Regions from separate parts of the Homo sapiens genome. Here region 1 is linked to region 2. The links come from fine-mapping of genetic effects on gene expression. A gene starts in region 2. The other region holds a variant in brackets. All regions are shown on one strand. Distances are from middle to middle.

Region 1 (4,394 bases), 330 kb after region 2:
TGTACCTGTAGTCACAGCTACTCAGGAGGCTGAGGCAGGAGAATCGCTTGAACCCAGGAGGAAAAGGTTGCACTAAGTAGAGATCACACCACTGCACTCCCGCCTGGGTGACAGAGTGAGACCCTGTCTCAAATAAATAAATAAACAGAATTGAAATGAAATTGCTTCCACTTCCACAGCTCTATTAATTATGGTTTTTAACACCAAAAAGGGAGGGAGGGCTAAAAAGTTTAACATTTTGCTAATTACAAAGAATTCTCTCCATACAATTTAAGTAATTTGAGTATTTTCTCTACAGAACTACTTCTTTCTAGTCTCATTCCAATCTATTAAAATCCAATGGTAGAGACACTCCACAGTAAAAATGTCAATTCTTCCCAAATTTATCTATAGATGTAATAAAATTTTTACCAAGGATTTTTATAGACATAACCAAACTTATTCTAAAACTTACATGGAAAGACACAAGACCAAGAAAAGCTAAAACAATTTTTAAAATAATAAAATTGGAGAAATTCTACCAAATTTAAAGACTTATTATATAGCCACAGTAATCAAGATTGCGTGGTATTGGTAGACGGACAGACACAGAGATCGATGGAGTAGAACAGAGAAGCCAAAAACAGATCCACACAAACATGTCCAACTAATTTCTTAGAAAAATGCAAAGCAATTAAATGGAAGAAGGATAGCCCTTTCAACAAATGCAGCTAGAGGAATTAGACATCAATAAGACAAAAAAAAAAAAAAAAAAAGAAAAATAGAGCTTTCATCTAAACTTCACACCTTACACAAAACCTAATTTGAAATGAATCACAGACTTAAAACTATAAAACTTTCAGAAATAAACACACTTTTAGGAAAAAATCTTTGGGGCACAGGGCTAGTTGAAGAGTTCTTGCAAAAGCAAGATTCGTAAAAGGAAAACCTGATAAACTAGACTTGGTCAAAATTAATTTTTGTTCTATGAAAGACACAATTAAGAGGATATAAAGACAAGCTACAGCCTAGGAGAAAATAATTACAAACCACATACCCAATAAAGGACTTCTAACTAGAATATATAAAGAACCCTCAAAACTCAACAGTTAAAACAAATAAAAATTAAAAAACAAGAATCCAATTAGAAAATGGGCAAAAACATGAACAAACATTTCACTGAAAAGCAGATGGCAAATAAGCATATGAAAACATATTCAAAATCATTATCCAGAGACATGCAAATCCAATCATAATGAAAAGAATTACTACATAAGTATCGGAATGGTTAAAATAAAAAATAATTCATTGCTGAGGGAAATGTAAAATGGTACTTTGGAAAAGTTTAGAAGTTTCTCACAAGGCTAAATGTAGTCTTACAACACAATACAATAGGAATTGTGCTCCTAGATATTTATCTAAATGATCTGAAAACTTACATCCACACAAAAGTCCACACACAAATGTTTATAGCAGTTCTGTTCATAATTTCCAAAAACTGGGAACAACCAAGATGTTTTTCAATAGGTGAATGGATAAACAAATTGTGATATAATCACAGTTGAATACTGTGGTTCATCCACTATAGGATATTATTCAGCAATAAAGAGAGATGGGGGGAGAGTAAGAGTTATCAAGCCATGTAAAGACATGGAGAAACCTTAAATGCATATAGCCTAGCAAAAGAAGCCAGTGTGAAAAGGTCAGATACTATATGCTTTCAACTATATGACATTCTGGAAAAGGCAAAACTATGTTAACAGTAAAAGGATCAGTGGTTGCCACGAACTGGGGGTACAGGAGGGCTGAACAGGTAGAGAACAGATTTTTAGGGCAGTAAAACTATTCTGTATGATACTGTAACAGTGGACACATGTCATTTTACATTTGTTGTCAAAACCCACAGACCTGTACAAGTCACAGAGTCCTAATATAAGCCATAGACTAGTTAATAATAATGCATTAATACTGCATTATTGTTCAACAATTTTCACAAATTTACCATGGTAACAGATGTTAATAAAAGGGGAAAGTCATGAGGGAAGAAGGTATATGGGAACTCTCTGAATTATCTGCCCAACTTTCTGTAAACCTAAAACTGCTCCAATGAAGTCTACTAATCTTTCTCAAAAAATAGTATTGATGTCAAACGCTGGCAAAGATGTAGAGAAACTGGATCACACATACACTGCTGGTGGGAATGTAAAGTGATACAGCCACTCAGAAAAAGTACAGCACTATCTGAGAAAACTAAAAATGCATTTATCACATAACCCAGCAATTGTACTCTTGGGCATTTATCCCAAAGAAATGGAAAATTATGACCATTCAAAAGCCCATCCACAAATGTTCACAGCAGCTTTAACAGTAATAGCCAATATGGAAACAATCCAAATGTCCTTCAACAGGTGAATGACTAAACTGTGATACTTCC[C/T]TACCTACCATGGAATACTACTTAACTATAAAAAGGAACAAACTACTGACACATGCAACAACTTGGATGGATCTCAAAGGAATTAGCCTGAGTGAAAAAGCCAAGCTGAAAAGTTTACATACTATATTACTTCATTTACATAAAATTCTTGAAATGATAAAATTACAGAGATGGATTACTCAGTACATTATTTCCTACAACAGCATGTGAATCCACAACTACCTCAAAAAAAAAGTTTTATAAACTCCAAAGGTAAAGATATATTCTCTAAAACCAAATTTTTCCCCTTGAGTGGGCTAACAAATTTCCCAGAGCGGGAGTTCTAAGCCTCATATGCACACTGGAATTACCTCTAAAAATCCAGATGCTTAGGTAGCATCCCAAACCAATTAAATTAGAATCCTCAAGGTGAAATCCAAGCATCTGTATTTCTTTTTTTTGTTGTTTTTGTTTGTTTGTTTGTTTGAGACGTTGTCTCGCTCAGTCGCCCAGGCTGGAGTGCAGTGGCACGATCTCGGCTCACTGCAAGCTCCGCCTCCCCGGTTCACACCATTCTCCTGTCTCAGCCTCCTGAGTAGCTGGGAGCTGCCACCACACCCAGCTAATGTTTTTGTATTTTTAGTAGAGATGGGGTTTCACTGTGTTAGCCAGGATGGTCTCGATCTCCTGAACTCGTGATCCGCCCTCCTCAGCCTCTCAAAGTGCTGGGATTACAGGCGTGAGCCACCACGTCCGGCCTCAAGCATCTGTATTTCTTTTAACTCTCAGGTAATTCTAACGTTCAATCAAGAATGAGAATCAGTATCCTCCAGAGCTAGAGAGTCTTTTTAAAAGCAACCTTTACTAACATGTTAATAAGATTATTAACAGTTGTTAAGGATCTGGCTGTTAACAATTCACTAAAATCTTAGCCACAAAAATTATCCCACTGATAAATGGAAACTTTAACCCAAACCTCACTCAGCTTCCAGAAACAAAAGGATTTAGCCCAAGAAAGACAATAGTTCATTATGGTTTATTTTTAAATAACGTTCCTACTCGGCAATGGAGTTTGAGTCTGAAATTGAATGGTAGGTTCACCTTTATCTGTGAAACTTCTGTAAGTACAAAAATGGATATATTAATCTGGCTTTCCAAAATCTCTCAAGCCAAAAGGTTACAATATTCCATTTTAGACTTAACCTAAAATCAAAAGGAAAGATTTAAAATAACCTCGTGACTTTCACAAATTTAACTACCCACAGACAAACCAGGAGAACAAGGTACAGAACATGAAACATTTCGAATGAAGTATTCTTTTCCAACTGCATGTGAAAAGGCAACATTGACAGCATCACAAAAACCTTAATTTAAAACTAAATGTCACATAAGAACACCATATACACCCAAACAAACCCACATACCACATAATTCAACACATCCGGGCAGCAGTGGCTAAATAATGGACTAGCATGAATACTGCAAGGATTTTGGCAGACCGATGTAGAGTCGCTCACATTTCCTTTGCCTTTAACAGTGCCTGTTACATTACTAATGTAGTTTTTGGTTTTTAGGTTTGTTTGGAGTTTCATTGGGGTTTAGGGGGATGAGATTCCAATTATACTGTATAAATTATTAAGTTAGATTCTCAGCCCAGGAAAATTAAGTAAAACAACAATACTATAACATAACAGAATTTGACAGTTGTGTATTGCTTAAAACATTAAAGTGATAAGGCCATTTTTAAATATGTGTAATCTTTTTACAAGTTCAGAAGAACCACAAATTATGGAGCTACAAACCACCAGCTATTCAAAGGAAAATTGTAGCTTATAAAATATTGGCTGACTGCCAATACAAACAAATTTTTTCCCCTCAAAAAAGCTTTGTAAGCCAAAATACTGTTTCAAAAGTGACTATAACCATCTTATTCAATCAAGTAGTAATGTTATTACACAGTAAAGGTAAGTCAATTCTTGGCCTAAAACAACCTGTAAAAACC
Region 2 (4,394 bases):
TAAATGTTTTTCCGCACTGTAAGCATAAGAATAGTTTATGCATTTTAAGGTGGCGCAGATAGTTTTCAACATGAAGAAAGCCTCGAGGACACCTGGGGCACTGGTGCCTCAGTGAATAACCTTCCTCCAGATTCTGAATCTCACTCACTGTACCATAACTTCCTTCAGTATTCTCACAAAATAAGCCCTGATCTTGATTCCCAGGAACTTCAGCCACTCTGCTCTCAACTGTAGAATTGATCAATGAATGCTGTGTTTCAGAGAAATACATGCTTGCTTTTGAAGAGGTACAAGGCTGTGAAAACTGCCCATTTTCGACACCAGCTGTACTGATGGATTCTACATGAAGGATACAAATTTCATTGTCTTTAAAACCTATGTCTACTGTAGACAGCTCTGGTGACTTCATTTCCTTTCTCTCTGATGTCAGACTCTCTACTGTAGACTGCAAAGCATTGCTTTCCTCTTCTTTAACATGGAAATCTATGTTTACAGGACTATCTTCTGAAATTTCAATTATCTCACAGTCTTTATCAGAATTTTCATCTTCATTCTTAACATCAGGATCAGAAGACTGACACAGGTCAGTGTGTTGGTTGTTGTTTTTCATAGAAAGATCAATTTCCAGATACTTTGACAAAGCTTCTGTGCACTTTTCCACAATGTGAACCATCTGAAGGTAACTGGCAGCAGTCAAGTATTTCAAAAGCTCTTTCCTTTTAACTTCAAGTGCTCCAGTATAGCAAGACAGTAACAATTTTCTGCCAACTTCTGCACTCTGTAAGATGGTGATTCTGACATGTTTTGACTGTGTGAGTAAAAACTGATCTCTCATAAAAGTGGAGCAAGCAGCCAAAATCACCTTGTGCCCCTGGAACTCAGTGTCATTAATGTAAATTGATACATCACAAAATAAATTCTGCTGTCTCAAAAGATTCATTTTCTGCAAGACCACATCTCCTTGCTGTTCAAACTGGAAATGCAGAACATCAGACTCAGCAGCCATGATCACAATCTAAGCAAAATAAAACACAAACATTGATGTAATAAGGATAGGGAATGCTTTCCCATGCTGTAATGGTGAAAACAAACGAAAAACCCCAAACCTGAATTAGGAAGAAGAAGACTCAAAGTCTAATGTAGGTGTTATGAACCTTTATGCCACCATCTCAAAACGAGAACTTTATAATGCACTTCTCTATGATCTCATAGCACATTTTTCATAACTTTGTTACAACATTCATTACAATGAATTGTAGTGAACAGTTTCTAGCTTGTTTCTTTTGCTAAATGTTGTGTGCCTTGTGGTCAAGAACAATCTATCAATTTTGAATATCCAATATAAGCACTGTGACCACCAAAAAGTTGATTTAACATAATATATCCAATTAGCAACTTTAACGTAATCTCCAAACTTCCTACTCCCCACCACTACAACAGGTCCTCCTTCCGGTTCACCTGGACAACTGCAATGTCTTCCAACAGGTCTTCTTTATACCACACTCTTCTGTATGCCAGATTACCCGCCTGAGTGCCACCAGGATTAACAACCCTTATTTTATTTTATTTTTAATTTCCCTTTTCTGCTTTAAATCTTCTATCGTTCTTCTCTACCTCCGGGACAGTCCAGATTTCTTAGGAAAGAATACGAGACCCATCACGATTTGGCTCTAACCCATCTTTATGGCTTTATCACCTTCTATTCTCTTTTTCATACTCGAACCTCGTTCAATACTAAATTTTTCCATCATTACCCAGACAAAAAGACACGAATACACATTTCTTACATTCGCGTTTCCAGTTCCTTTTTTCAGCTAGTGATTAGGCTCCTTTAAGCCCAAATCAAGTAAAACTAATATGACTCCACCTCCCGTTTCAACCAGAGAGAGTCAGCTGCTCTCTGAGCACCGCGAGATGGTGCCTGATGCATCTGTGTTCCTGCACCGAGCTCAGGGGCCCACACAGAGCAGGAGGAGCTCAGGGAACATCTGCTGAACTGAAACCGGATGCCAGGTTCAGCACACAGGTATTCTGGAGGCAACCCTGCGAAGGGCCAAGGCCCTGTCGGCCCAGTGGTTGCAGCACAAGATTAGCCACTCCGGGGCCGAGCCCAGCTGTCCTCCTCCTCCTCCTCCTCTTCCTCAGGCACCCTCCACCTGAGGAATCTACTTTGCACTCACTCACCGACTCAGAAAACTAGAGTCAAGGATTCCGCGGCAGCGTCTGCCCAAGCCGGAAGATGGACTTAGCCTGGAAGAAAACACATCCGGTGCCAACCAGCTTTATTCTTTACTGGGGCCCTCTAGGCGCCCCGGAAGGACATTCTGAGACGGTCTTCCTTCCTCACTTCCCCCCTCTTGGAATGACAGAAAGGCTCCTGAATGCCGGCAAGCCCCATCTCTCTTGTCCCAGTTTCGGCACTCGAGCCGTTTTCCCCCACCATCCCTTTTTTTTTTTAAGACGGAGTTTCGCTCTTGTTGCCCAGGCTGGAGTGCAATGGCGCGATTTCGGCTCACTGCAACCTTCGCCTCCCGGGTTCAAGCGACTCTCGCTCCGCAGCCTCCCAAGTAGCTGAGATTACAGGCGCCCGCCACCACGCCCGGCTCATTTTTGTATTTTTAGTAGAGACGGGGTTTCACCATGTTGGCTAGGCTGGTATCGAACTCCTGACCTCAGGAGATCCGCCCGCCTCGGCCTCCCTAAATGCTGGGATTACCGGGTTGAGCCACCGCGCCCAGCCGAGCCATTTCCTTTTGTGAGTCCTCCTGAACATCCGAATTGGAGACGGGGTTTGAGGTTCGGTTACGGCACGTCTGTCAGAGTAACCAGACCTTTTATGGATTATTCTGGGACGATTCCTCTCCTTATTGGGGCCACCTACAACTTGAAAGGTGGCAGAGCAGAAACTATCATAAAGATCCGTATTCGAGATTGCCTAGATAATGCCCCATCAGGAGATGGCCCCAACCTCTGGATCTAGCTTCACACTTAAATGCGTTCCTCCATCCCAAAACTTTTGGCCCAGCTGTTTCCTCTGACGTGCCCTAGCCTTTTCCCCAGGCTTTTTTTTTTTTTTTTTGAGACGGAGTCTCTCTCTGTCGCCCAGGCTGGAGTGCAGCGGCAGGATCTCGGCTCACTGCAAGCTCCGCCTCCTGGGTTCACGCCATTCTCCTGCCTCAGCCTCCCGAGTAAGCTGGGACTTCAGGTGCCCGCCACTTCGCCTGGCTAATTTTTTTTTTTTTGTATTTTTAGTAGAGACGGGGTTTCACCGTGTTAGCCAGGATGGTCTCGATCTCCTGACCTCGTGATCCGCCCGCCTTGGCCTCCCAAAGTGCTGGGATTACAGGCGTGAGCCACCGAGCCCGGCCTTCCCCAACGTATCTTTAAAGAACCCGTTTATAAATCTCATCATCCTGAAGCCATCCTGAACTGCCCTAAGATAATTGGTTCCCAGTTTGAAACCTGTAATCCCTTTTCCTGCCTTCATTATTGCACTTAACACGCCTGTATTAATTTGTGCCTCATCTAGGCAGAGTTATTTAGGACAGTGGCTTACTGATCTTTGTATTCTCGAAGTCTAGCACTTGGTAGGCATCAAGTATTTGTGCTGAATGAAGATATGACTGAAGAAATTCTTTTTCTTTTTTTTTTGAGACAGAGTCTCACTCTGTGGTCCAGGCTGGAGTGCAGTGGCACGATCTCGGCCTACCGCAACCTCCGCCTAGCAGGTTCAAGCAATTCTCCTGCCTCAGCCTCCCGAGTAGCTGGGATTACAGGTGCCTGCCACCACACCCAGCTACTTTTTGTATTTTTGGTAGAGACGGGGTTTCACCATGTTGGCCAGGCCGGTCTCGAACTCCTGACCTCAGGTGATCCACCCGCCTTGGCCTCCCAAAGTGCTGGGATTACAGGCATGAGCCGCCGCGCCCGGCCTCTGCACCAATTCTATTCCTTTTTTTTTTTTTTTTTTTTTTTTTTTGAGACAAAGTCTCGCTCTGTCGCCCAGACTGGAGTGCAGTGGTGCGATCTTGGCTCACTGCAAGCTCCGCCTCTCGGGTTCACGCCATTCTCCTGCCTCAGCCTCCCGAGTAGCTGGGACTAATGCCCTGCCACCAGGCCCGGCTAATTTTTTGTATTTTTAGTAGAGACGGGGTTTCACCGTGTTAGCCAGGATGGTCTCGATCTCCTGACCTTGTGATCCACCCGCCTCGGCCTCCCAAAGTGCTGGGATTACAGGCGTGAGCCACCGCGCCCGGCCGCCTCTGAACCAATTCTTAAAGGCAGTTGCTCTGCTCCTCCAGCAACAGGTTCTCGTGGAAGTAAATGAATCTAGTAACAACTTTCTGATTAATTCGTATTTTTTTCTGAAGGCAAGCTCAGCATGCTTAATATGT

The links. PIP is the estimated chance that this variant, and not a neighbour inherited with it, causes the effect.
Region 1: its variant is the best candidate, but not a certain one, in a credible set for the expression of ZBTB6 in whole blood (INTERVAL, PIP 0.56).

The regions. Positions count from the first base shown.
Region 1 is chr9:123,242,530-123,246,923 of GRCh38, forward strand. All of the region lies in intron 1 of STRBP (spermatid perinuclear RNA binding protein), which reads right to left. Among named protein-coding and RNA genes, the nearest start is that of STRBP, 24 kb to the right of the region's middle. The variant C/T (reference allele first, on the strand shown) is at 2,414.
Region 2 is chr9:122,911,067-122,915,460 of GRCh38, forward strand. ZBTB6 (zinc finger and BTB domain containing 6) reads right to left here and starts at 2,257. Exons shown (of 2, transcript NM_006626.6): 1 at 2,185-2,257; 2 at 1-1,015. The coding sequence starts at 1,006. RefSeq lists enhancers at 1,972-2,081, 2,092-2,321, 3,790-4,394.